Regions from separate parts of the Homo sapiens genome. Here all the other regions are linked to region 3. Evidence: fine-mapped expression QTL. A gene starts in region 3. Each other region holds a variant in brackets. All regions are shown on one strand. Distances are from middle to middle. Region 1 holds the start of H2BC18 (H2B clustered histone 18). Region 2 holds the start of H3C14 (H3 clustered histone 14). Region 3 holds the start of H2BC21 (H2B clustered histone 21).

Region 1 (10,308 bases), 71 kb after region 3:
GACTCTGGAGTTGAAATCTGGTTTGGCACCGACTGTGTGACTATGAGAAAGTTTCTTAACCGCTCTGTGATTCCTCCATCTCCCAATCTGTAAATGGACATACTTACACTACCTACTTGACAGGGTTTTGTGAGGATAAAATGAGTTAATACATGTAAAGTGTTTAAAACATTCTTGGCACCAAGAAAAAGTATGTAAGTGTTAGAAAAAAATATGCATATATAGGCCGGGCGTGGTGGCTCACGCCTGTAATCCTAGCACTTTGTGAGGCCTAGGCGGGTGGATTGCCTGAGCTCAGGAGTTCGAGACCAGCCTGGGCAACACAGTGAAACCTTGTCTCTACTAAAATCCAAAAAATTAGCCGGGCATGGCAGTGTGCACTTGTAACACCCCAGCGTTGGCAACAGATATCTTCTTCTCCCTTGGCTGCTTCAGGGTAGAGAAGAAACATGCTTGCCCCTTTCTGACTCTGTCATAACTCTTGCAGAATGTATCACATTATTTTACATCTTTCTTTTTTTTTTTTTTTTTTTGGAGGCACAGTCTCGTACTGTCACCCAGGCTGGAGTGCCGTGGCGCGATCTGGGTTCACTTGAAGCTCCGCCTCCCAGGTTAATGCCATTCTCCTGCCTCAGCCTCCCGATTAGCTGGGACTACAGGCGCCCTCCACCACGCCTGGCTAATTTTTTTTAAAAAAATATTTTCAGTGGAGACGGGGTTTCACCGTGTTAGCCAGGATCGTCTCTATCTTCTGACCTCGTGATCTGCCCGCCTAGGCCTCCCAAAGAGCTGGGATTACAGGCGTGAGCCACCGCGCCCGGGCTATTTTACATCTCTTTACATCTTAGTACTTCGTCCTGGCTGTTTGTTCCTTACTGGCAGTGATTTTTTTGGGGGGGCGGGGTGCGGGGGACGGATTATCCCTGGGTGGTCCAGGCTGGAGTGCAGTGGAGCGATGTCAGCTTACTGCAACCTCTGCCTCCGGGGTTCAAATGATCTTGTCTCAGCCTCTGGAGTAGCTGGGATTATAGGCGTGGTCCACCCCCCCACCCCTGTTTAACATATAATCAAGAAATAACCATAAAAATGGGCAACCAGCAGCCCTCAGGGCTGTTCTCTCTATGGAGTAGCCATTCTTTTATTCCTCTACTTTCCTAGTAAACTTGTTTTCACTTTATGGACTGGCCCTGAATTCCTTCTTGCTGGATATCCAAGAACCCTCTCTAGGGGTCTGGATCGGGACCCCTTTCCTGTAACACATATTCCAGTGGAATACGTTACATAATAAAGGCAGAAATTGCAAAAAATTTGAGCTTACAGTACAGGTAGTAAGTATTAGGGACCAGTAGAAAGGAGAAAGGTGCCAAGTTTTATCAAATGAGCAAGATATTTAAGGAATGAGTTTATCTCATAATGGGGTAAGGAAAAAAGCTGAGACTCTCATGGCTTCTTCAACTTGGTCCAGGGCTGCAGACCATTCAAGAGAAATTCAAATCAGGCATAGGGCCTCATCAACCCACAAACCAATTCAGCTGGTCTCAGCTTATGATACTTATAACCCTGAGGATACTTGAAGCCAAAAATGAAACATAAATTATCTTATTGGAACATCTATGTTAACTTAGTCCGTTACTTTTGTATTAAAAGTAAACACATGTACATACAAAACATTATGTGCGTAATAATTCATTTATTAATATTTTCTTTTGCCTTCTTATTTCTTGTTAGGTAAATTTTAATCTTCTCTTGTCTATTCCCCCGTGCTACCTAATGAAATTTCTGTTCTCAGTATTCAAGCTGCACAGCCTTATAATTTCTGCTGAAGGACACTTCAAAAATTTTAGGAGGAATATTCCGTCTTTGTTACAACTGAAGAAAAGCAGAGCTTCTTTTGCACCATAAAGTTGCTTCTGATATAGTGGTGGATTGAGACCTTTCACAGAAATGTCACTCTAGTGTCCAATGTGGGGACTAGGTGAAATTGAACTAACAATTGATCTGAATTCTGTTATTAAAGATGACTTTTAAGGCAACTATACATCTGATTGTTTTATTCTGAGAAATGATACCTATAGCCATTAAAGTCTGATTGAATGCCATTTTCTTATTTAAATGAACACATCCTACATTATGGTCAAGACTGCATACATCATAGAGAAAGTATATTGCAAAGAAATGTGATGCTTGGGTGGGCTGCTTTGGGCTATCATCCAGATTCCATGGGGTAGTTTTCCCTTCTAATGGGAATAGTTGGGTGTAGATGTTTGAGAAATACTAGATGATGTGATTGCTTGATGGGAAAACGCTTTTGTGCTTTAAACTGTGTTGGCTGGGTGCGTGGGGCTCATGCCTGCAACCCAAGCACTTTGGGAGGCCGAGGAGGGTGGATCACCTGAGGTCAGGAGTTCGAGACCAGCCTGACCAATATGGTGAAACCGTGTCTCTACTAAAAATACAAATAAATAAATAAATTAGCTGGGGGTGGTGGCTTGCGCCTATAGTCCCAGCTGCTCAGGAGGCTGAGACAGGAGAATTGCTTGAACACAGGAGGCAGAGGCTGCAGTGAGCAGAGATCCTACCACTGCACTCCAGCCTGGGTGACAGAGTGAGACTCCATCTCAAATGAAAAAAAAAAAAAAAAGGTATCCTCTAAGCCTAATGAAATAGAAAGTTTCATCATTACAGTTTCATTCTTTTGCTTTAGAATATTACACAGGCTTTGTTACTTACCCAGGACAAGCCATAATTTCTCTGAGACTCAGTTTTCTTATCTGTAAAGTGAGAAGAGTAACATCTATTTCACAGAGTAGGGATTAAATGATAAAGTGTATGTAGAAGAACTTTAAACACTGAGTAGTGCCTGCTGTCTGTAAGGCATTATTACAAAACTACCACAGAGAGGGATAACATTTGTTCACATCAGTTACACTTTTGTACATTTTAGATCTCTCGAGAGGAGGATGCTTCTGCCCATGAGAGACTCTTGAAGATATTAATTAAGCTCACAGATTTCTACTTTGTGTTTAGTGTTCAGGAAGTCCCCTTGAAATCACTTTTACTTTACTTTGACTTCAGTAGGAAGATAGTTCATAATGACACCATCAAAGTAAGTTTTAAGCGTTTCGGGCCTGCTTTTCTCAGGTTTGAGTTTTTATAGTTTGTAATGATTTTTTTAGTAAAATAAGGATATGATTAAAAGTTTTATATTAACTACTACAACTTTTAAGTATCAGTTGCTTCTACATAACCACTATGATATTTACTGTTCTGAACAATACATACTTCAAAGCACATGAAATTGAAAAAGCAAAGCATCTTTACTCTCTTCATAGAGAACAGAAAAAAAACTAAACTTTTAAGCATTATAAAATACTTTATTGAATAAAATGTTAGCAAGTCAGCAATTGATGAATAATTTGCTTTGAAACTTGAACTTGTAATCTGGCTAATAAGCACTAATTTACAAACTATTCTACATTGTAAAGGAGAAATGAATTTCTGGTGTTGTCCTTCTTTGATTTAGAAGCTTAACATCTGCAGGACCTAATTGGCCATTGATGTGAGGTTGAGGAAGAAGGAACCACATCGCAGGGAGAAAAGACTAAAGGAAGGCAGAGGCTCTAATATCAGGTCAATATAGGTCAGCACACTACCCACATGAAATGGCTTTGGCTGGGTTCCAAGGTCAAGTAAATAAGATCAATTTTTTCATTCCTTCAATTACATATTTTTTTGCTAAGCTTCGGTCATTCATGGTATACAATGCATCTAACTTGCTGAGCAAAATGCCAGACATGAAATAAATGTTAGCTATGGTAGAAGAGCTACAGTAACAGGTAACCTGAAACAGGCTGATAGCTCATAGAAGGGCATGCTTGAATTCGGGGAAAAAAAAAATCTCTGTTAAAATGGGATGCAAAACACTTTATACATTGCTTTTACAAAAGTTAGACTAATTTAAAGGAAAGTCTTCAAAAACAATCCGTGATCGATAAAATTACAGAAAAAAATCAGGAAAGGGGGAAATAATAAGGGAAGAAAGATTAGCAGAACAATCTTCCGCCCCAGTAAAGAGGATTGAATTTTAACCAATGAGATCACAAGTTTGAAAATTTCCTTTTCAGGCCCAATCAAGAGGAGACTATGTCTATAAATATGACTGCCTAGACCCTCTCCTATCAATGAGACAGCATGGCCCGTACTAAGCAGACTGCCCGCAAGTCGACCGGCGGCAAGGCCCCGAGGAAGCAGCTGGCTACCAAAGCGGCCCGCAAGAGCGCGCCGGCCACGGGCGGGGTGAAGAAGCCGCACCGCTACCGGCCCGGCACCGTGGCTCTGCGGGAGATCCGGCGCTACCAGAAGTCTACGGAGCTGCTGATCCGCAAGCTGCCCTTCCAGCGGCTGGTACGCGAGATCGCGCAGGACTTTAAGACGGACCTGCGCTTCCAGAGCTCGGCCGTGATGGCGCTGCAGGAGGCCAGCGAGGCCTACCTGGTGGGGCTGTTCGAAGACACGAACCTGTGCGCCATCCATGCCAAGCGCGTGACCATCATGCCCAAGGACATCCAGTTGGCCCGCCGCATCCGCGGGGAGCGGGCCTAAGGCATATTTTTAAGTGGTCGATCTAAAGGCTCTTTTCAGAGCCACTGCCGTTTTCATCAAGAGCAGCTGTACC[G/A]GCTCTCCATCTGATGTGCGTCTGCCTTGCGCAGCGGTCAGGGGCCAGGGGCACTCGTGGTGGGTGACGTTACAGAACCCAAAGCCCAGCCGTGAGTTGGCCGGCAGTAGAGAAAGCCGCAGAGGCATGGTCCTTGTGGTTCCGGCCGAGCGTTTTCACGCTGGTTTAAGGCTAGAGGTCCGGCTCCCAATTCTGTGGGTAAAGTTTTGCATGGGGGCAAGAGACTATGGGGAGTTTCTAGATGTGGAAGATCCTGAGTGTAAGGGTGGGGCGAGTCCCTTAAAAATTATAAACCCGTTTCCTGGTTTATTTAGGAACTATAAGCTTAATTAAAGCTCAGCATCTTCCTCATTGCATACTACAGGCGGTGTCCAAGCCAGAATAGTAATTTAAGCGGGCGGGAGTAAATATCTGGCGATTTTTAAAAATGGGTGAGGTAGTATTTCAAGGAAGAGAAAAAAATTTCCACAAAGTATAGAATAAAAATGCAAAAACGAGGCAAGAGAGTTAACTTGTCTAGCTGGCGTTAAGATTTCTTCCGTATGCAAGTCTAATGGAAAGTGAAAACCAAGAAAAAACCCCAAGCCGTAGAAACTATCGCTTCACCTAGCTTAAAACTGGTTAGTGTGAAATGGACCATTCTGATAGGATAACAAGACTTTTGTTACAGTGACCATTAAGGAAGCAAGACTAGAATCTATTATTTACATAGACTCCACCCCCTCTGACGACACCGTTGTAAGTTAACCAATGAAAGCGCAGCACTTTGCGAGTCTTCATTTGCATACGGGCTCTATAAGTAGCGCATAACCAGCCCGTTTTGCGGTAGTTCGGATTACTTCTTTAAGTCTCTTTTCTCTTTTTTCGCGCAAAAATGCCGGATCCAGCGAAATCCGCTCCTGCTCCCAAGAAGGGCTCCAAAAAGGCTGTTACGAAAGTGCAGAAGAAGGACGGCAAGAAGCGCAAGCGCAGCCGCAAGGAGAGCTACTCCGTTTACGTGTACAAGGTGCTGAAGCAGGTCCACCCCGACACCGGCATCTCGTCCAAGGCCATGGGCATCATGAACTCCTTCGTCAACGACATCTTCGAGCGCATCGCGGGAGAGGCGTCCCGCCTGGCGCACTACAACAAGCGCTCCACCATCACATCCCGCGAGATCCAGACGGCCGTGCGCCTGCTGCTGCCCGGCGAGCTGGCCAAGCACGCCGTGTCCGAGGGCACCAAGGCGGTCACCAAGTACACCAGCTCGAAGTAAGAGTGTGCAAGGGACGCAATAGATCAACCACCTAACCCCAAAGGCTCTTTTCAGAGCCACTTCAGTAATCGAGAAAGCAGCTGTAAACACTTGTCAGAGCGTTTGATAGCTTTTGGTCAGGTAGGGAGTGTTACCATGGTCACGGATGCATTCGGGTTTAGGACTAAGGAGTTTCCTGTAGTCCTGTAATGAGTTGGCCCTCAGTCATCCCCGTCCAGTCTTACTGAGTTGCTTGTTATCTGTGCTACGAGATTCGAAAGGTTTGACTCGTTCTGGGATATTTGGGAGGGATGGAGGGAAGGAGGCGGGGGGTGGTTCTACACCCCTTCGGCCTTTAACCTGTATCTTTAAAGTCGTTTTCCTTTTTGTTTCTGAAAGTAATGAACGAGATGAGATTTCCCATACAGATGAGAAACCCTCGGTCCGACCTCTTACTATTTCTTAGTGTTTTAATCTGTTTTCCTTACCATATACCTACAGGCGTCTGTCACAAACTTTGTCTAATATAGCCATGTGCTTTCGTCCCTTAGCCTTTTTGCAAGTCCTGACTTAGCCATCCTCCCCTAACTTCCATTCCAGTGACTTCAAACAGGGAGATATATTGCCACCACCCCACCCCCTGTGGAGTATTTGGCAATATCTGTAGATGTTTTGGGTTGTCAGGTGTGTGTGTGTTGCGGGGGAGGTGCTAGAAGTATCCAATGGGCAGAGGCCAGGAGTGCTAAGCATAAGGCACAGGACAGTCCTCTGGGGGGACAAAGAGCTACCTGGCCTGTAATGTCGATCTTTGGTGATTGAGAGACCCCAGCGCCCAAAGACATCCCTAACCTTCAGGATTTAATCCTCTTCAGTCAAACGTTTCCTTAACCCTATCAGCCCATGTTTTTCTTTTCTTGGTGAAAGCTGAGCACTTCATAGGCTGTTTACAGGTCCTTCTCCACAGGAAAATACTTCCTCCAGGACAAGAACCCTGTCTTGGTTCCAAACTTTCCCAATTATAAGAGTCACCTTTGCGCTTGTTAAACCTGCTTCCAGGTGCTTCTCCTGAGGTTTCCTGATTCAGCTAGACTGGAGGTGGGACCTGACGAGGTGGTTGGTTTTTAGTGTTCTCAGGAGTGTGGATGTTTTAATAGGTGTTGGGTCCTCATGTTAATCGACCTGTGGGTGTGTCACAGTCTTTGTGTCACAGATGTCCTGAGAAAGGAAACAATTTGAGGATGAGTGGAGGGGAATTTGTGGTGTAGAGAAGGCCACAGTTAATATGTGGGGTGAATTTCTGAAGACCTCTCAGTTCAAAACTTGAATAACTCAAGACTCATCCTGACAAAAGCCAGTGGATGTTTCTTTTGCCAAATAAAATATACCCTTGGTGCAACTGGAAAATCTTAGCTTATAATTAACTTGACAGCCTTTGAAATTAAGCCATTCTTGATAAATCTTGGGGGAATTAACAACTTTGTGCTTAAAATGAATTTTACTAATTTTTATGATGTTGAAATTCAAATTTACACCCAATTAAAAGATATAAAATGCGGTATACATGATTTTTTTTTTCCACTAGAAAATAAAGATTCCCAGTTTAGTCATCTTTTTCTGATCACCAGACAAGAGGTCAGGGAAAGATAACTGAGAATCCAAAATTTCCGTTGAAAGTAAAGAAATCATATATAGCACATTCTCTGGTAGGAAAGGTTACTCAGTAAGTGAGACGGCCGAGGTGGTCTATTTTCTATACAGTTGGGCCATAAGAGAATTTATCCAATTTCCTCCTAGCTTAGGGTCCTGAAGTCAGGAGTTCCTTTTTTCTTAAGGATTAGGGACCATGTTTTTCAGGGCCTTTTGAAGTTGTTAAAGCATTGTCAACTGGCTCAACTACACAAATGCCATCATTTATTATCCACTGACCAAAAGATTAACTTCCAAATCCTCATCCTGACACTAAAGGCCACCTATTATCTAGCCAAAACTTACCTTCTTCACTTGTTCTCCCCAGTCCTCCAGCTTAGCCTAAATGTTCTACTGTCATGTAAAGCATTTTAACTTTGTCTTCTGTGCTTTTGTTACATTGTTCTGAGTTTTAGTACTCAGTCCTCTGGACTACTTGAAGCTTTTTATCAGTCTGTCAGTTCTTTTAAACTCTTGCTCAAATCTCACTCTGAGAAGCTTTTTCATCTCATTGTAGTTCACAGGGAAGTCTTTCTCTTAAGGCCTCATTCCTTGCATAACGAATAATTGTGTAGCTTTTTAAACTGTAGGCTTATTCCTCAATTTCTTTTTCTTGTTTTTACATTTTCTTGTCTGTCTTCTGCTAGAGACATATGCTTCTCGGTATTTATTCCACAAAGGCTATCCCAATGCCTACTATAAAATAGCTTCTCAATGAAAGTTTGTTGACTGGTTGCCAGTCAACAGAACACTAGAAAATTGATCTGAGAGTGGTGGGTTCTAGTAAATACTCTAGTAAATATTTTTCTCTACTTTTTTTCTAACTTTTTTTCTTACTCCTTTACTATGGATACTCTTTTAATTATTGCCCTTCATAATTATTGGCCCAGTTGAAACAACTGTTATAGATTCAAAAATCCTCAGAGTGGTAAAGTACTACACTTGGCATCTTCCCTTGAGCCGATGTATCTATGTAGCTAAAATGATGAGATTAGAGTGGAGCTTTCTCACCCTGGTTTGAGGTGCTGCAGAAATGGTCTGCTTTTCTAGTGCCTTGAAAAAGGATGAGAAGAGAGGTGCATTCCAGAAGACAAAAGGTGTGTAGTATCAGGATAAGGGGCTTTAAATATCAGATCCAGAGAACACTGCACATGTAGAAATGGGCTTGGCCTGGGTCAGGGCATTGAGATTGGTTACATAATCTTTTCAAGGATTGGTGAATGAGTTGGAGTATGTGTAGAAACCTACAAAGATGACAGTTTAATCTCATGTCATAATTTTTAGACAAATAATGTATTTTAAAACTGGGTGCAGTTCCTAAAGCTGTTCTAAAAGTCAATGCAACTGAATTTGGAATGTAAGCATAGGACAACAGATGGGAAATAAGTACATGACCTCTGTGGGATAAAGTGAGAGTTACCAAAGAATGTCAGTGTTTAACTAGGAACAAGCTTGTTTTGGAGAATTACTAGATATTATGGAAAATTTTTTTCTTTTCTACATTTGATTAACTATAGCTGAACTATAGCAGATCATATGACTTGGCAAAAATAGAAAACTTGATAAAAATCTTCTAGGCCCCACAATGTCAACATGAACAAACTTTTGAAAAGTAAAAGTAGACCGTGTTTTCTCAGTATGTATTATCAAATATATGTTGAACATAAAATTTTTGCCCCTCAGCCAGGTTGTAATATTTTCCTTTAGTTTATCTCTTTAATAATTTTTTATGTTAATCCATTTTATTTTGAAAAAATAATGAGCTAGAGGATACAAAGATGTAAATGAATCTAAAAGAGAGAATTAAACTGGCATAAAGATAAATATAATTCAAGCAAGATATGTTATTCCCAAAAGAAGAGAAAGAAGGAAATGTTATGTGAATGGAGAGTGAAAGGTTGCCTCTGGTTGGAGAGTTCAGGAAAATTCTGTGAGAACTTACATGGTGCCAGCTACTGTGCTAAGTGATGGAGACACAAAGGTATCCATTCCTCAAGTCCATAAGGTTCAACTGGAGTTTTCTGTGTGACGAGTATATCATGTATCCTCTGAAATTATTTTTTAAGTTTTAGTTTTACCCAGTTTTTACTGTAACCTCTTTCAACTTTTTAATTGTCTGATTTGGGTAGATGGAATTCTCATTCCATTTTTATTCTGTGATTAGAGGTTATTAATTCCTCACCCCTCATCCAGGTTGTAACATTTCCATTTACTTTAAAATATTGCTTAAGAAAATTTGTATTTTACTTCAATTGAGATTTTATTTTTTAATATTATTATATTGAACAGCTTTGGCTATCCCACCCTCCTACCTGCAGAGTGCAAAACAATTTATGCACATCATACTCAGTTTACAGCATCAGAACACTCTTGGAGCATTGCTCACCATGGTCCTAGCTTGATTTTCTTGGGGTGTGATTATTCTTTCTTTTCTCTCTTTCTCTCTCTCTCTCTCTTTCTTTCTTCTTTCTTTCGAGATGGAATCTTGCTCTGTCACCTAGGCTGGAGTGCAGTGGCACAATCTCGGCTCACTGCATCCTTTGCCTCTCGGGTTCAAGCGATTCTCCTGCCTCAGCCCCCCGAGTAGCTGGGATTACAGATGCCAGCCATCATGCCCAGCTAATTTTGTATTTTTGTAGAAATGGGGTTTCACCATGTTGGCCAGGCTGGTCTCGAACTCCCAACCTCAGGTGATCTGCCTGCCTCGGCCTCC
Region 2 (9,358 bases), 38 kb after region 3:
ACGTCCCGGAGATCCAGACGGCCGTGCGCCTGCTGCTGCCCGGCGAGCTGGCCAAGCACGCCGTGTCCGAGGGCACCAAGGCGGTCACCAAGTACGCCAGCTCCAAGTGAGTCCCTGCCGGGACCTGGCGCTCGCTCGCTCCCTCCCTCCCTCCCTCCGCGGGTCGCCGGCTGCTTTGTCTCCAAAGGCTCTTTTCAGGGCCATTTAACCACCTCAGTTAAAGAATCTTTCTTGTGTTGTCAGTCCCAGTTGATGTTTTTGGCTTCACGTCTGGTTAACTTTAGGAGAGCACACAACACCAAGCACAGATAACTATTTTCTTTTCACATAGGCATTGCTATAAGTAAGCTTACATAGATTGATAGTGGTATCTTACTATGGCATAGATAGGTTGGGGCTTGCCTTAGAGGGCTGCTCTTGAACTGTCTTTGGCCTGGTTACGTACCCGTGAATATGTGCCCAGGAGATTGTTTCCTGTTGAGAAACGCAGTGTTAATTTTGATAAGTTTATGTAAGATCAAATTGTGTATATGAACAAAGGTTGGGTCCGCTCTTCAGTGGTAAAATGAAGGTAGAGATTAAATGCATTGTATGCTCTCAGATGTGTACTTAAAAGGGAATAGCTCAACTTTTATATATGGTATCGAGAAACCTGAGGTTTTTATATCATTGGTTCACAAACACGTGCCTACACCACCACTCATGTGAAAATTCCTTAAGGAGGTAGATGGAAGTTCGATTTTGATAACCAGGAGTTAACACCGATAACCTTCTGCGCTTTCTAGTTGAGATACCCTAAAATCTACCCAATACCATTAAATGGTTTTTTTCCCCAAGAGTTATCACTCGGAAAAGCTTGTCCAGTTTAAGGGTTTGTTCCATACAATAGCAACAAAATATACGATTTCTGAAGCCAGAGTTTGGGATCCCTGAAGAGGAGAAGGACCACCAATTTGCAAGGGAGGTTGATTAGGTTTGTTTTCTGCTTTGGGAACACTGGACTTGGAATCACACAGCCTCATTAACCTCAAAATATTATACTGATTGCTCTGGGGATCGTAAATCCTAGGCTGGCCACAATAGAAGCGAGGAAAGCAATTAGGAGGCTGTTGCAGTGTTGTGGGCTGGAACAGTGATTAAGACTTAAAGTCTCTCCAGACCAGCAGCATCAGCATTACTTGAAGTTACTAAAAATGAAAATTCCCAGGTTCCATTATTTGTGTTAAGCTTTCTGGGTGATGGTGATATATGCTAAAGTGTGAAAAACAACGGATAAATGACATGCTGGAGTGCAATGGTGGTAATGGAAACAAATGTTGGATTTTATCTTTGAGGTAGAATTAATAGGTGTGGCTGAGGAACAGGATTTAGCTAACAGTGAAACCCCTAGATTTTTGGCTTGAGCAACTGTGTAGATAGTGGTACTATTAGGATAGAACACTGAGAGAAGATATTCGTTGGGACACTGAAGGGAGATCCAGAGTTCCGACTGAAATTTGAGAAGCTCTTTGCTATTCAAGTGGATATGTGCAGTTGACAGTTTGAGAGATGCATCTAGGGTTCAGTAAAGACAACACAAGCCTGTCTTTAGGGTCTACCTGTGAACTGTGAACACAGCAATGAGAATGATGGACATCACCTTTAAGTATTTTTCTAGACTTTATTACTCATGTGTTTGTCATGAGGTGTAACTTAGTAGTTCATAGTCCTATAATGTATGTTATTGACTAGGTAGCATTTATTTTTCTAATTGTTTCTGTTATAGTGCTGCCACATGTGTTTCCCAGAAACGCATTTTACCCACAGTTCTTAGGGTTGGCCTGATTAGTTTAATTGCTGTCTGAACCTGCTTCTTACTGTGATTAGTTCAGGAATCTAGATCAAACTCATTGGCATTTAACATTTCAGGAAGTGAACTGAGTAACAACTAACTCAGCAGGGGAGTGTAGTATGCTATTATCTTTTGGGAAAGCAGCTTATTTGCTTTCAAGAGGCAGCAGGAGGATGGACTGTCTTTAGGTATGAAGGCAAGAATGATTATAGACAATATGCAGAGGAGGACACAGTGTGGGAGAATCAGGGAACTGAGCCACTCATGGAGTTCAGCCAACCTTGGATCCCTGCTGCACCTTTGGACTTCCAGTTAAGCCAATTTGTCTGACATATTTACTTATACCAGTTTGAATCTTGAAATATTTCAGGAATAATAATTTCCTAGATAAAAGGAAAGACCTTTCATGAAAGGTCTCAAGTCAAATAGGGTCAATTAGGACAGAGTTGCTCCAATTACATATTTGGAACAGATGTCCAAATGTTAATACTTGACTAAGGCTAAAGACTAATATTACCATCACAGGAAAAATGTCCAGGGTTTTTTTTCAGATGTGAAATTTTATTTAAAAATTTTAAATAAACTAAATCAAAAAATTTTAGTAGTTGTACTAATTTCCTGGGGCTGTCAAAGTACCACAAACTGTATGGCGTAAAACAACACAAAGTTATTCTTTCATGGTTTTAGAGGCTAGAAGTTTGAAATCAACGTGTTGGTAGGGCCATGCTCTCTCCAAACCCACTAGGGGAAGACTCCTGTCTTTCAGTGTCTGGTAGCCCCACTTGTTCTTTGGTTTCTGGCAGCATAACTGTAATCTCTACCTCAGTTTTTTCATGTATGTCTCCATGTTTTTTTACTTTCTTTCTTGAGATGGAGTTTCACTCTTGTTGCCCAGGCTGGAGTGCAGTGGCATGATCTTGGCTTACTGCAACCTCTGTGCCCCGGGTTCAAGCAATTTTCCTGCCTCAGCCTCCCGAGTAGCTGGGATTACAGGCATGCGTCAGCACGCCCGGCTGATTTTGTATTTTTGGTAGAGATGGAGTTTCATCATGTTAGTCAGGCTGGCCTCGAACTGACCTCAGGTGATCCACCTGCCTTGGCCTCCCAAAGTGCTGGGATTACAGATGTGAGCCACTGCACCCGGCTGTCTCCATGTCTTCTTATAAGGGTATCAGTCATACTGGATTAGGGCCCACCCTAAAGACCTCATTTTAACTTGATTACCTCTGTAAAGACCCTGTTTCCAAAGAAGGCAAAATTCTAAGCAACTAGGGGTTAGACTTCAACATATCTTTCGGGGGGACACAACTCAACCCATAACAGTAGTCAATGGCTGTGGCAGGCTAAATGTGGCTCCCAAATATGTCCATATCCTAATCCCTACAGCCTGTGAATATTACCTTATATAGCCAAGAGGATTTTGCAGATGTGATTCTGAGATTGAGAGATTATGCCAGATTATCCAGGTAGGCCCCAAATGTAATCACCACAGTCCTTATAGGAGAGGCAAGAAAGTCAAGTGTAGAAGGAGGCGATAGAAGGAGAGAGGGATTTGAAGATTAATAGGCTGCTTGCTTTGAAGACAGAGGGAAGGGACCATAAACCAGAAATAAACCTCTAGAAGCTGGAAAAGGCATGGAAATAGACCCTCCCTTAAGGTCTCTGGAGGGAGTGCAGCCTTGATTTCTACCGAGTAAAATTGATTTTGTACTTCAGACCTCCAAAACTGTAAGAGAATGACTGTTGTTTTAAAACCATTGAGTTTGTAGTAATTTGTTGCAGCAGCCACAAGAAACTAATACAACATCTATATAGAATTTTTTCAATAATTGGAGAAATTTGAATATGGATTGCATATTAATATTACTGAATCAGCATTAAATTTGTTAGGTGTAATAATGTGATTGTAGCTATTTAGGAGAATATCCTATTTTTAAGAGACATGCCACCATATTTAGGGAGAAGTGCCAACATATTTGCAGTTTATTTTCAAATGGTTCAGAGGCTGTCTGTGTACATGAGAAGACAAAGATAAGGCAAATGCAGCAAAATTGTAATAATTGGTGAATCCAGGTGAAGGGACTATGGCTGGTCTTTGTACTTTTTTTTCCAACTTTTCTGTAGGTTTAAAATTTTCAAAATAAAAAAATGGGAAATACTTTAAAAATTGTAATCAAAGACATTAGTACAGAAACTTTCATAATGTATTTTATTTTTACAGTAAAATTAATTTATGTAAATTGATAGAATTTTACTAATTTCACTCCCAAGTTACATTAAAAGGCTTACATATGTTTGATAATAGCATATGTAAACTAGAACTCTGAATGATATCCATTGGTCATAATACGTACTATGTAGCGGTAATGGTGACTTTTGTGATTGCACAAGTCTAGAGATGCCCCAAATGACATTGACTTAGACATCTGGTTATTCTAAGGCTGAAACTGAAGTTGAATAGAAGGTTTTAGTCAAATACTGAGATGAAAACTGAGGCAGTCCTGGCGGGGGGGAGTGAGTGTGTGTGTATATATACACACATAGACATCATGCTTCTAAACATTTACAGAAAGAAAGGGTAGATTATCTACAAAAAAATAAGAATCAGACTGATATGAGATCTTACAAACCTAACCCCCTTCTCTTTCCTAAACTCCAGATTCTCATATTTCTGACTTCCTATTTGATATTTACACTTCGATATTTACCAGGAGTCTTCAACATTTTGTTCAAAACAGTACTCTTGGTTTTCTTCCTCCAAGACTACTCCTTACTCATATCAGCAAATAGCAGCTCTTTTCAAGTGCTCAGTGTAAAAACCTACAATTAATCCTTGATTTCTCTTTCAGTCAGCCTATACTAAATCAATTTCATTTAAAATATCTCGGCTACTACTCTGCATCTCCACTGCTACCATCGGCCTCTCCAGTCACATTCTCCAAGAGCACTCTATCTCATTTAAAAGACAAAATCTCTGCAGTGGCCTGTGATGCTCCTTAATGGCCTACATAATCCAGCCCTCAAGCACCTCCGTGATCTCTGTAAAACTTTCCCTTGGTCACTGTGCTTCAGCCACATTAACCAGCTTGCATATTTCTCACATTCACCAAGCTTGTTCCTGCCTTGGGGCCTTTGTACTTACCATGTTCTGTTCTGAGAATACTCTGCCTCAAGATATCCTACAACTATCTTACTGTATTCAGCTCTCTGCTCAAGTATTAACTGATGAAACCTGTCATCCCTACTCCACTCCATGTTCTGCTTTACTTAACAGCAATTGCACATATGGCCCCCTGAATAATATACATTTAGTCACTTATTTTTACTTATCTGCTAATTAAAATGTAGACTTTTTCTATTCTGTTTACTGCTGTATTCCCAGCATGTTTTATCCGAATGTGCAGTGGTTTCTTTTCTTCTCCCTTATCGTGGGAAGTGATGTGCACAAATACACATAATGGAGCCTGAATGTCATATTGCTTTCATACCTGTGTGAATTTTGGTAAGAAAGGAAAAGTAGCGATTGACAGGTAATATAATTACATTAAGTCACTCTCATAGTTAGCTGTTTATTGCTTTCCTGCTCTTATTCTCAGTCCCCAGGACCAAATGTTGACCACTACCTTCCCCCACATATAATTAGGTTATTTACCGAACGCCATGCAGGTGGCTGTTAAAAGGAAGATATATACTTACCTTATAAACTCAACTTTTCCCTGTTGTCTTTCTGTCTCACCCCTACCTCCATGCTTTAAATTAACTTTTCAGGCTTAGGCCTTATCTCTCAGTAGAGCCATATAAGGTATGTGTAAAAGCAGGAAAATGTTTCCTGGGGATGAAGCTTTGAAAAGCTTTTTTTTTTTTTTCTTTTGGCAATAAAATAAGGTAGATTCAGCACAATACCTAATAACTAAAAAATCTGTTTTTAATTGGGTGGGGCAGACAGCAAGTGTGTCATCCTGGAAGATACTATTTGGGATTTTATGTAGGTACATAAGAGAAAAAAGTGAACAAAAGCAAGGGGCTACCAGGACGCCGCAGTATGCTTAACATGTATTTTCTAAGTTTGTATTATGCCTTTATCTTGGTACTTTTATCTTCTGTTCTCACTTGATCTTTTTGAAATGTATTTTAAATCCTAATAAAAATATATAAAGTCTGGAATTAATAAAGGATTAAATGAAACTTTTGTATATCTCACTGAAATTCTCAGAAAAAAGGGGGGTGTGGGGAGGGGGAATTGCCTGGGGTAGTGAGTGAAAATTGTGACCAGGTTCTTACTAAGGAATATGGCAACTGCATAATCAAATGTCAGTGGTTACCAAACTTATGAATCACCTGGTGTTGTGTCATAGATTGTCTATCCTTGCCTCTCGCCCCCAGTGATTTAGATCAGTGGAACTATGTGGGGTTTAAGAAATATACAATATATATTTGTATATATTTGTGTGTCTCGAAAGCTTCAGGGTTAAATAAGTTTTAACTGTTTAGGAAACACT[A/G]TTGTTTTAGGTATCCAGTCTCAAAGACGAAGGCCTTTAAAACTTACTTAATTTTTCATTACATTTCTTGCCCAGAAAATTGTAAAATACCCAACGATAACAATGGGGAATTGTCTATCAGCACTTGACTAAAAAGCTTTACTATCCATGACAGCAGCCTTTGCATTACTCAATTCTGATGGCATTTAACGTCTTGAAACCCAGAAATAAATACCTATAGACTCACAGTACCTGAAAGGAATACCAAATTGAGACAAGAGAGCTATATAAACCAAAAATTGCTTCAACCACAGAATGGAGGTCTACAGGTGCGGAAGGAAAGTTTATATGGTGAGGCTTGGTCGCAAAACTATTAGGAATATTTTCAGGTTACTACACAATTTTGCGAGCTCAATATGCAGTTAACACTTTTTCCCTTGACTCTCCTGAGCAGATTTACATTGACCGCACCCGTAGCATATCGTCTCACTTTGGAAAAGGCAAATTATGTGCACATGACCCTGTCACTACAAGGTAGTTCTCGACCAAGCTACATCTTATAGCTTTATCTTATATTCCTCTCCCATCATCTGCAGGAAAAGGGATAGGTGCTGAGGGAAAACCCCTAAGTAGAACTCACAGTAAGCAGTGGGAAAACAGCTTATTTCACTAACGGGGTTAAGTGGCCCTGAAAAGAGCCTTTGGAGACAAAGCAGCCGGCGACCCGCGGAGGGAGGGAGGGAGGGAGCGAGCGAGCGCCAGGTCCCGGCAGGGACTCACTTGGAGCTGGCGTACTTGGTGACCGCCTTGGTGCCCTCGGACACGGCGTGCTTGGCCAGCTCGCCGGGCAGCAGCAGGCGCACGGCCGTCTGGATCTCCGGGACGTGATGGTGGAGCGCTTGTTGTAGTGCGCCAGGCGGGACGCCTCTCCCGCGATGCGCTCGAAGATGTCGTTGAGGAAGGAGTTCATGATGCCCATGGCCTTGCACCAGATGCCGGTGTCGGGGTGGACCCGCTTCAGCACCTTGTACACGTAGATGGAGTAGCTCTCCTTGCGGCTGCGCTTGCGCTTCTTGCCGTCTTTCTTCTGGGCTTTGGTGACGGCTTTCTTGGAGCCCTTCTTGGGAGCCGGCGCGAACTTTGCAGGCTCAGGCATGGCCAGACCCAAGACCGACACCGACCCCCGAGAACGCAAGCAGAGCGGTAGGCTCGGGGTCTACCGGAAACGACTGTGTACTTACAGAGGCTGTGCGCATGACGCTGCGTTATGGTTCGCGAGTTTTCCGCGGCGCGCAATGCGAGGGAGACGAGATTATGTAAATGAGTGGATTCTGGCTGAGCTATCCTATTGGCTATCGGGACAAAATTTGCTTGAGCCAATCAAAGTGCTCCGTGGACAATCGCCGTTCTGTCTATAAAAAGGTGAAGCAGCGGCGTTTTCGGCGACTTTCCCGATCGCCAGGCAGGAGTTTCTCTCGGTGACTACTATCGCTGTCATGTCTGGTCGTGGCAAGCAAGGAGGCAAGGCCCGCGCCAAGGCCAAGTCGCGCTCGTCCCGCGCTGGCCTTCAGTTCCCGGTAGGGCGAGTGCATCGCTTGCTGCGCAAAGGCAACTACGCGGAGCGAGTGGGGGCCGGCGCGCCCGTCTACATGGCTGCGGTCCTCGAGTATCTGACCGCCGAGATCCTGGAGCTGGCGGGCAACGCGGCTCGGGACAACAAGAAGACGCGCATCATCCCTCGTCACCTCCAGCTGGCCATCCGCAACGACGAGGAACTGAACAAGCTGCTGGGCAAAGTCACCATCGCCCAGGGCGGCGTCTTGCCTAACATCCAGGCCGTACTGCTCCCTAAGAAGACGGAGAGTCACCACAAGGCAAAGGGCAAGTGAGGCTGACGTCCGGCCCAAGTGGGCCCAGCCCGGCCCGCGTCTCGAAGGGGCACCTGTGAACTCAAAAGGCTCTTTTCAGAGCCACCCACGTTTTCAAATAAAAGAGTTGTTAATGCTGGCCACTCTCAGTCCAGCGTTCCTCAGTAGTGAATAGCGAACCTGGAGCTGACGGGACGGGACGGGACGGGACGGGACGGGACGGGGCGGGGCGGGGCGGGGTGTGTGTGTGTGCGCGCCGTCTTCCATCTGGAGCACGTAACTGCCTTGGCTCTTCGATGAGTGGGTCCCCAGTCCTAGGACTTCCCAGGGCAGGTGCAGGCACCAAACGTCCTGGGCGCCGCCACGGTCCGCTCCACACAGTCACAAACACCAGCGCCGCGGGCAGTACCCAACGCGCTGAAGTGTTGCGCGCGGAGCGCGCGCTTCCCTAGTGGTTTCCGCAGGCTATGGCCGGACACTTAGACCTAGTCTGGCACCAGCGGGACGTGCTCCTCGTCCCCACCCCCGATGGGGAGGGCCCTGAGCGGGTAGTGCTCGCTAGTGTGGCGGAGCTGGGTCTTGGCTTCACTGAGCTGACTTAAGTCTTAGTTTCTGTTTTGTTTTCCAAAGCGCCCTGGCGGCGGAGAGTAAGGGCCTCGGAGGCGGAATCTTGCGTCCTGGGGGCGGGCACCTCTCCCACCCAAAAGGCACCCGACAGGCGAAAAACGATCCGCCAAGTAGCAACTGGGGGCGGGGGGCAAATGGAAGAATGAGGTTCCACGCGGGAGCTGTAGGGCGCAGCAAGAAAGGGGGGGTATTGCGGGCAGTGTGTTCTAAGGAAGCGAAGGGCGGAAAGGGAACAATCTGACAAAGCTGCAATGGAAAATGACTTTCACCCTGAAGGAAAGGGGAAAAACAAGCTTGCGAAACTTCGCCAACTGGTAAGTAGAAAGTGAGGCGGGGTGGGCGGGATTAGGGAGGAATCTGCCCAAGCCAACCGGTGACTTTAGGACGGGTGACGTCACAGCCAATGGACAGCCAGCGCGGGATTTTCAATTATTGTTCCGCCCAATCGGGAAAAGACTGTGCTTATAAAGACGGCTGCGGCGGGGCTAGGAGCTCGTTTTTCTCCCCGCCGCTGCGCTGGTAAGCCTGTGTTTTGGTTCGCTATGGCCCGTACT
Region 3 (9,391 bases):
AAATCTATTCTAGCCTCGGTCAAACCGGATTCCGAGGAGTGCAGGCGGGTGGGGGTGGGGCGGAGACACGCCGCTGCGGGCGACTTAAGTTTAGGGGCGAGAAAGGAGGCAGCCTTAGTAGTACATGTATTTTTAAAGGGAATTTGGCTGTGACGAGACAGAAAGGGCGGGACTTGGCAGTTTAGAGCTCAAGGGGATCATCGGCTTCAGAATCCCCTACTCTTTCGTGAGAGTAACTCTCCGTCTAAGGATGTCTTCTGCAGTTCCTTAGGGTCCATATTGGGATTTCCCGGCTGTAAACTAAACAAAGCAAAGCAAAACAAAACAAAAACCCACAGTGCCTCTCAGTAAAACAAAACCAGTATTTTGTTTGAAAGCCTGCTCTCTTTAAAGATCCTGGCATGCAAATAAGGGGCTTTAATGTGGCTCTCAGCGATTGGTAGATACTTACAAAATCCGTCATTTCCTTTCAGTGCAGGACGCAAACCAAGAGGCGGCTTTCTGCTTTTCTATTGGCTGTTAGATACGGCTCCGCTTTTAGCCAATCAAACGACTTCCCTTCACCCCTCCCGGTAGCTCTTATAAATTACATCAAATTGGTTATTCTTTCCACATTCTTCTCCTTGTAAAAGAAGCTGTAACTGCAATTTTAGCCGTAATGTCAGGACGCGGAAAGCAGGGAGGCAAGGCCCGCGCTAAGGCCAAGTCGCGCTCGTCCCGCGCTGGTCTCCAGTTCCCGGTGGGGCGAGTGCACCGCTTGCTGCGCAAAGGCAACTACGCGGAGCGGGTCGGGGCAGGCGCCCCGGTGTACCTGGCGGCGGTCCTCGAGTACCTGACCGCGGAAATTCTGGAGCTGGCGGGCAACGCGGCTCGGGACAACAAGAAGACGCGCATCATCCCTCGCCATCTGCAACTAGCCGTGAGGAATGACGAAGAGCTCAACAAGTTACTCGGGGGTGTCACCATTGCCCAGGGCGGCGTCTTGCCCAATATCCAGGCTGTCCTGTTGCCCAAGAAAACGGAGAGTCACAAGCCTGGCAAGAACAAGTAATTAAGAGGCTTGACACCATACTCATTCACCCCAAAGGCTCTTTTAAGAGCCACCAAAGTGTCAAATGAAGGGCTGATCACGAAATAGCGCATTAGCTCTTTTTTTGAAAACTTGGGTGGCTCTAAAAAGAGCCTTTGGTCTTGGTTTGTTTGTCTGCATTTATTTGCTTTTGGCTTTGTGGCTTTCGGTTTTCTTTGGTAACAGAACGGCCTGGATGTTAGGCAAAACGCCGCCCTGGGCGATGGTGACTTTGCCCAGCAGCTTGTTCAGTTCCTCGTCGTTGCGGATGGCCAGCTGGAGGTGACGAGGGATGATGCGCGTCTTCTTGTTGTCCCGAGCCGCGTTGCCCGCCAGCTCCAGGATCTCGGCGGTCAGGTACTCGAGGACCGCCGCCATGTAGACGGGCGCGCCGGCCCCCACCCGCTCCGCGTAGTTGCCTTTGCGCAGCAAGCGGTGCACTCGCCCTACCGGGAACTGGAGGCCAGCGCGGGACGAGCGCGACTTGGCCTTGGCGCGGGCCTTGCCTCCTTGTTTGCCACGACCAGACATGACTGAAATCAAGGTTAAACACAGACAACGCTCAGAACCTCGCAACAAAATAAGATTGAAAGAGAACCAAGAGGAAAGCCTTTATAAGCTTTCCTAGGGGTGGGGTCAAGAACGAGTTTTTCATTGGTCCTAATATGGCTTCAGAACCGGCCAATCAAGTCAAGAGTCGGTGTTGTTACGTACGCATTGCTGAAAACGCAAGGTCCGCACACGGACCAATGGAAATGAACGACTTTCGGAGCCCTAATTTGCATAAGGTGGTTATAAAAGAATCAGGCCCGCCCATTCTCTTACTTCTTTTCTTGGCTAAGCCGCGTTTGTACTGTGTCTTACCATGCCTGAACCGGCAAAATCCGCTCCGGCCCCTAAAAAGGGCTCCAAGAAAGCCGTCACCAAAGCCCAGAAGAAAGACGGCAAGAAGCGCAAGCGCAGCCGCAAAGAGAGCTACTCCATCTACGTGTACAAGGTGCTGAAGCAGGTCCACCCCGACACCGGCATCTCGTCCAAGGCCATGGGCATCATGAACTCCTTCGTCAACGACATCTTCGAGCGCATCGCGGGAGAGGCTTCCCGCCTGGCGCACTACAACAAGCGCTCCACCATCACATCCCGCGAGATCCAGACGGCCGTGCGCCTGCTGCTGCCCGGCGAGCTGGCCAAGCACGCCGTGTCCGAGGGCACCAAGGCGGTCACCAAGTACACCAGCTCCAAGTGAGTCCCTGCCGGGACCTGGCGCTCGCTCGCTCGAGTCGCCGGCTGCTTGACTCCAAAGGCTCTTTTCAGAGCCACCCACCTAATCACTAGAAAAGAGCTTGTTCACTTATTCCCTTAGTTTCTTTTCATAAAGTAAGTTATTTTAGTGTGAAGGTCATGGGAAATGGCATACGTAGCTTTTTAACTATTTGGAACTCGAGGTCCCCAGTGCGTCATTGGATTTGCTTTTGAATCTAGAGCGTGTCTTTACTCATTGTGCTGCTTAGCCTTCCCAGGAGTCGGTTCTCAATTAGGCTGTTGGGAATCCGCCTCTTTACCCGCCCCCACTCCCGCCCCACACGCGCCCTGGTGGCTCCTTGGGTCTGTTTCATTCTAAAACGAAGTGGCTGAGTTCGGCTGTCATTTAAGAGAACTCCAGGACACAATTCAGCCCGGGTTCCGCAAACACTGCGTGACAGCTCTGTATGACTGACGCTTGGCAGCAGCTTTTGTGTCCGGTCACCAGTTCTGCCGTGCGATGGGGCCTCCTGTGGATACCAGCCGTTCTGTGTATTTTGGACGAAGGCCGCGCAGCCGGGTCCCAGCCTTGTCCTGATTGGGCGACAAGAATATTCAAAATTCTGCGCCTTTTTCTAATTTGTAGATTTCAGTTTCCGTCGTTCACTTTGAGACTTTGAAATTCCTATTTCTCATTTTGTTGATAATTTCTGCATTTAATGGTCTGTGCTTTAAATGGTAACGCTACGGCCCCAGGTCACTGCGAGGCACTTACCATGTAGATACGGGCTCAAAAGTCACCTCTCAGAGACCTACGTCATCCACTCAGGAATTCGCGCCTCTCATACTTGCCTGTCTCATTTTATCTTCCTTCTAGCAGCTGTCTGAAATTGGTTCGTCTGTTTTCTTGTTTATGGTATTCTCAAGCCCTTGACAGACCGGCTAGTGTGGTTTTCCCGTGCATCTTCAGCCTGGCACATTATGGACACTTAAATACTACGTATTGATCTAATATTGTTGGGTTAATTTTTCCATCCCACCCTTTTCTTAATCGCTTCCGTGGATGGATGAAGGGTGCTGTTCATTTCCATTAGATGTATGTGAAGGCACAGTGAAAATGGAAATGTTCTTGGAGCTACTTCCTCAAAATGTATCCTTAGTCACCTCAGTGCAACAGCTGGGAGGGGGCCGTGTTAAGATTTTTTTTGCTACAAAGAGGAGGTGGCAATGGTAGATCCACCCTTATGCTTCTCAGTTTAGCATAACCTCTTATGGATTTTCATCAAATTCAGCGTGTTGGTCACTGGAAAGAGCCTTTTCCTTCTCCTTTTCTTACTCTCCCCTCATGGTGTTCCCCTCTTAAAGGAGAGGAGCTTTTAATTTACACTTACCACCTCATTTGCTTTTCTGGAGGCCATGCAATATAGGCGGGACTACAGAGTTAATCTCCTTTTTACAAATGAGGCCAAGAGAAGCCTCATTGGTTCACAGTCATGCAGCTCATACTGTCCACCCTTGTATTCTCAGATGCAGGACAATTGCATTTTAGTTTTATTTTGTGGAGGTGCAGAATATTTACTCTTTCTGTCCAACCCTTGATTCTGCCGAGGAAGACACTGATGGTTTGATGAGTGATTCAGCTGTTTTTGGCTAAGGGCTTTTGGAGCTGATGGCAGGGGTTTGATGAATCCAAATGAGCTCTAGACATTATCACAGACTGAATAGATCTTAACTGTCTCCTACATGTGTGTTTTCAAATGTGTATAGATGCTATTGTTATTAATAAAGTTACCAATTAATTTAAAGGCTTTGCTGGATTCTTTTATCTACAGTGTATTTTCTCAATGAATGAAATTAACAGATACAACTTCCACTGTGTCTGTAGAAAAGCGTGGGTGCCTCTGATCTGGGGGATGACTATTTATAAGCCACCAGCCAAACTGCTGCCCCAAAGGTGCACTGGGGCTGAAATAGTCTGTTACAAGGCCACTGTTAATGCTTAGTAATTGAAAAATATATGATCACAAATAGACAGCAGTACAAATAAGATGGAAGAAATAAAGTTCATAATAAAGTTAAGCTAACACCTACGGAGCACTTACTACGTGCCAGGTAGTGTCCTAGGCCCTTTATATGTATTGACTCATCTAATTCTCACTGGGACCTCAGGAAGTAGTACCGTTATTATCACCCATTTTACAGATAAGGAAACTGAGGCAAAGAGAAGCCTTTCTTCAGAAACTCTCCAGAGAATAAGCTCCTAGGTTAGCAGTTAAGGGACTTGAGAAACAGGGTCATTCTGAAAACCTGGACCCTTCCTGTGTTTTAGGGGGAAATATCTATGCTTTAGAATTGAAAAGAAATACCACTGGCTTTATTCTCTTCAGAGTGCACCCTGGATATAAATCCTGGGTGGTGGTGGCTGAGTACATTGAGGGTGGGATTAGGTGGCTGTGATCCTTCATCCCAGAGGCCATAGCTCAACTCAATTGAGTTTGTCCCCACAGTGGTGGGGCTCACCAGCTGGAATCCTTTCACTAACATGAGAGAGCCTTAGTTGCTGGTTTTGGGCTCCACCTGGGGATGATGTTCACTGGGAAGGATGTTATAGAGTGAGGAAGGGGGGGAAGAGGTGATAGATTTTGATATTTTAACTCTGGAGGGGAAGTAATTGGTGAGATTAATCCTCAAGAACCTCTTTGATCGTTTCTCCTGCTCAGACATCTTTAAACATTTGCTTATGTTGGGGTTAATAACAATAATTGTTAAAATAATGATTGCTTCCCCTTACTAAGCACTTAACTGTTTACCTTAAACTTACTTAGCAGTAAGCTAAGAGTTTACCTTACACTTACTTAGCAGGATGGTCTTGATCTCCTGACCTCGTGATCCACCCGCCTCCTAAAGTGCTGGGATTACAGGCGTGAGCCACTGCGCCCAGCCTACAGCCACTTTTTAAGATAGGTTCTGTTGGCCACACGCAGTGGCTCACACCTGTAATCCCAGCACTTTGAGAGGCCAAGGTGGGTGGATCATTTGAAGTCAGGAGTTCGAGACCAGTCTGCCCAACATGGTGAAACCCCACCTCTACTAAAACTACAAAAATTAGCTTGGCATGGTGGTGGGCACTTGTAGTCCCAGCTACTCGGGAGGCTGAGGCAGGAGAATCCCTAGAACCCGGGAGGTGGAGGCTGCCGCCACTGCACTCCAGCCTGGGCAACAGAGGAAGACTCTATCTCAAAAAAAAAAAAAAAAAAAGGAAAAAAAAATGAAGGACCAAAAGGACACTGTCATAGCTCTGTAATATGGCTTATCAATAATTCTGGAGTAGGCCTAAAGGGCAGCTCTGTTTGGGTTTCAGAAATTGACCCTTAAGTGAGAGACTGTCCCTGTAACCGAGGGGACTAGGTTTAATAATTCATTTAATATGTGTGATTGAAAATCTGTATCTACTAATTTTATAAATATTAAGTATCTATGCACATTATTAAATTCTATAAGAACGGCATTCTGGGACCAATTTTCTTCTCTCTGACTCCTAAGCATTGTTAGGTGTGATATCATTTGTTCTTTCATTCAAGAGTTTATTATCTGTGAAGATGGCAGGCAATCTGCTAGGTAGTGAGGACAGAAAATTGAACAGGCGTGGCTTCTGCCTTCCTGGACCTCTAGTGACTAGAAGAGAAGACATATTAATCCAGTGACTATGAGAAAGTGTGACAAGTATTACGACTGTAGAAGTATAGATATAGAGAGTATAATGGAGGGAGTCGTAACTTCACATTGGTGGGTGTAGGGAAGGCCTCCCTGAGGAAAGAACCTTTAGGATGACACTTGACAAGGATAGGAAGGGTGTACCAGGCAGTGGATGGCATGGGCAAAGGCCTGGAAAGAGTGGAAAAGATCATGGTCAGGTAGATAGGAAGAACTGCAGGAAGTCTAGTACAGGTGGTGGTTAGAGGGCAAGGAGGACAGTGCAGCATCAAGAGGTTACACAGGTAGACAGAGCCAGATCTTGCAGGATTAGGCCAGAATGTATAAACTGCCTTTAAAGAAACCAATGAGCTCCTAGGCTGACCTGACTATGGGAACAGAAAGGAGCTGTGTGGCACTAAAAACAGAAGAGTTAAAGTCTCAGAGACCACATGGTTTATGCCCATCAAGCACTTTCTGGAGCAGATGGACCCTGACCCTCAAAAGTGTGTGTTTGTTCCCTGCAACAGGGCTTCCCTTAAAGTGGAAATGGCTTTGTCAGGCCAACCAGATTGACACCAACTACCATGGTCACCTGCCTCTGTGTGCTGCAGGTGGCCTTCTCATTATAGTTTGCCTTTCTTTACAACTCTGCTTCCAGTAGAATGATGGGTGGATCAGGGGAACCGAATATGTGCTCTTTAGAGAGTTGTCTTCAGGATGTAGTTTATCATGAGCCTCTGTGCTCTATTTTCTGTAAATTGGTACTTAGAGGCTTGATTAGATTTAGGTTTAGTTTTTCACCCCATGACATGACTACTTCATAGGTGGTACTATTTCTTTTCTATCAGGAGACATGTAATGTCTAGCTGCTTCTTTTTTTGTGGTAACAGCAGTGATTGATTCTCAATGCTTAGATCAATTAATTCATTATCAATTGCAAAATAATGATATTCTGTCACTCTTCTTTCATATATTAGCTGGAATACTTCAGTAAAGAGGAATATTATTATTTTTTTTAGAGATAGGGTCTTGTTCTGTCACCTAGGCTGGAGTACAGTGGCCAGATCATAGCTCACTGGAACCTCAAACTCCTAGGCTCAACTGATCCTCCCACCTGAGCCTTCCCAGTAGCTAGAACTACAGGTAGGCATCACCACGTTGAGTTAATTTTTAAGTTTTTTGTAGAGATGGTATGGTACCAAGGCTGGTCTTGAACTCCTGGCCTCAAGTGATCCTCTCACTTCTTTTCAAATCGCTGGGAAAAATTATTATTTTTAATAGTAAATATCTGGAAACTACTTGTATATCTACTAGTATGTGGCAATAAAATGTTAGGGTCCCTTTTGGTGGAAATAAAAAAGGATATGTGTGTATTGATATGTATGCACCGATATGAAATAAAACACTTTCCGGGGATTTCACATAACAAAACTAATAATAGTGGCTACCCTTTTTTTTTTTTTTTTTTTTTTGAGATGGAGTCTCATTCTTGTTGCCCAGGCTGGAGTGCCATGGCACGATCTTGGCTCACTGCAACCTCCACCTCCCAGGTTCAAGTGATTCTCCTGCCTCAGCTTCCCGTGTAACTGGGATTACTGGTGCGTGCCTCCACGCCTGGCCAATTTTTTGTATTTTTAGTAGAGACAGGGTTTCACCATGTTGGCTAGGCTGGTCTCAAACTCCTGACCTCAGGTAATCCACCTGTCTCGGCCTCCCAAAGTGCTGGGATTACAGGCATGAGCCACTGTGCCTGACCAATAGTGGCTACTCTTTTTTTTTTTTTTTTTGAGATGGAGTCTTGCCCTGTTGCCCAGGCTGGAGTGCAGTGACACGATCGTGGCTCACTGCAACCTCCACCTCCCGGGTTCAAGTGATTCTTCTGCCTCAGCCTCCCAAGTAACCGGAACCATAGGCTCGTGCCACCATGCCCCGCTAATTTTTGTAGTTTTTAGCAGAGACGGGGTTTCACCATGTTGGCCAGGCTGATCTTGAACTCCTGACCTCGTGATCCACCTGCCTTGGCCTCCCAAAGTGCTGGGATTACAGGCGTGAGCCAACGCACCCGGCCAATAGTGGCTACTCTTAAGGAGAAGAATTTCCTTGGGCCAAAAGATTTTGCTTTTTCCTTTATATCTTTCAGTACTGTTTAAATTTATGATCAATGTTCACTTAAAAACAATGTCAGCAGAGGTTATGTGAACAGTGGGATTATTGGCCATTAAAAAAAAGCCTATAAGATTTTTTTTTGTTGAAAATAATGTATTTAAAAATACCTGTTCTACTGCCTGGCACTGAGTAGGCTCTCAATACATTGTAGTTAATTCTAAAAAATGGTTAAAAAAACTTCATCAATGCAAATAGCAATCAACTTAATAACAGTAGCAGCAACAGCAACAACAAAAACTCCAGAAGTCCCTAGGGTGGATGAGGTAACATATAGGTTTGGGATTGAGTCTCCACTATTCCTAACCTATTTTTTAAAAATCCCTCAAGATTATGAACACTTGCTTTGCAGGAGGCAGTCTCTGGAGTGATTTTCCTGACTAGTTAACTTCACTAATGTGTCCTCGGTCACAGGTTTGGTCATCAGACGGACTAAGAGAGCCAGTCAGGCTCTTTAAGGAGGCCTGGGTCATCGAGAACTGTGAAACTAGCTAAAAATCAGAGTTGATGGAACTGGCCTGGGAGAGTTGGTATAGGTTCTTGAGCAAGTCAAGAGCAATATTTTGGGCAGGTTATTATGACCTTTGTATCTTTATTCTGAAGAAATGTGCAGGATGCATAGAAGAAAGAGAATACAGGAAACCAGAAACCAGTGGGGAGGCTGCTGCAACCAGTAATGAGGTCTTAGACAAGTATAGAGACAGCAGGGAGAGAGAAGATAAACAAAAACCATGTTCTGAATGAAGGAGGCAAAAAACTGTTTTAGTTTTCTATTTATGTGTAAAAAATTACCCCAAATTAAGTGGCTTAGGACAATACTCCTTTAGCCTCTCATAGTTTCTGTAGGTCTGGGCATGGCATAGTGGGAGTATTTGATTAGAATCTCACAAGGGTAAAATCAAAGTGTCAACTGGGCTGCATTTTCATATGAAGCCTGGGGTCTTCCAAACTCATCCACGTTGTTGGCAGAATTCAGTTTCTTGCAGGTGTAGAATTGAGGCCCTCAGAGGCTGCCCTTCTCCACAGGCATGTCACAGCATGGATATTTGCTTCTAATGGCCAGCAGAAGAGCATCTCTGTTGCTTCCACTTTATCTAATTCAGGGAAGGCATTGACCCTCTTTTAAAAAGCTCACTAGGCCGAGTGCAGTGGCTCATGCCTGTAATCCCAGCACTTTGGGAGATCGTGGCAGGCAGATCACCTGAGGTTCGAGACCAGCCT

The links. PIP is the estimated chance that this variant, and not a neighbour inherited with it, causes the effect.
Region 1: its variant is fine-mapped to the expression of H2BC21 in whole blood (TOPMed, PIP above 0.99).
Region 2: its variant is fine-mapped to the expression of H2BC21 in whole blood (INTERVAL, PIP 0.99).

Annotation. Positions count from the first base shown.
Region 1 is chr1:149,807,565-149,817,872 of GRCh38, reverse strand. It overlaps H2BC18 (H2B clustered histone 18), which reads left to right and starts at 5,503. Exons shown (of 1, transcript NM_001024599.5): 1 at 5,503-5,994. The coding sequence starts at 5,550. The coding sequence ends at 5,930. H3C13 (H3 clustered histone 13) reads left to right here and starts at 4,180. Exons shown (of 1, transcript NM_001123375.3): 1 at 4,180-4,648. The coding sequence starts at 4,192. The coding sequence ends at 4,602. RefSeq lists enhancers at 4,251-4,540, 5,764-5,843. The variant G/A (reference allele first, on the strand shown) is at 4,676.
Region 2 is chr1:149,841,146-149,850,503 of GRCh38, reverse strand. It overlaps H3C14 (H3 clustered histone 14), which reads left to right and starts at 9,296. Exons shown (of 1, transcript NM_021059.3): 1 at 9,296-9,358. The coding sequence starts at 9,347. H2AC18 (H2A clustered histone 18) reads left to right here and starts at 7,754. Exons shown (of 1, transcript NM_003516.3): 1 at 7,754-8,286. The coding sequence starts at 7,806. The coding sequence ends at 8,198. It also overlaps the pseudogene H2BC19P, a transcript of H4C15 not described here and the pseudogene H2BC20P. RefSeq lists an enhancer at 4,416-5,179. The variant A/G (reference allele first, on the strand shown) is at 6,331.
Region 3 is chr1:149,879,184-149,888,574 of GRCh38, reverse strand. H2BC21 (H2B clustered histone 21) reads left to right here and starts at 1,893. Exons shown (of 1, transcript NM_003528.3): 1 at 1,893-4,116. The coding sequence starts at 1,935. The coding sequence ends at 2,315. H2AC20 (H2A clustered histone 20) reads right to left here and starts at 1,657. Exons shown (of 1, transcript NM_003517.3): 1 at 1,164-1,657. The coding sequence starts at 1,600. The coding sequence ends at 1,211. H2AC21 (H2A clustered histone 21) reads left to right here and starts at 610. Exons shown (of 1, transcript NM_175065.3): 1 at 610-1,106. The coding sequence starts at 659. The coding sequence ends at 1,051. RefSeq lists enhancers at 1-316, 540-829, 850-989, 1,400-1,459, 1,590-1,659 and 5 more.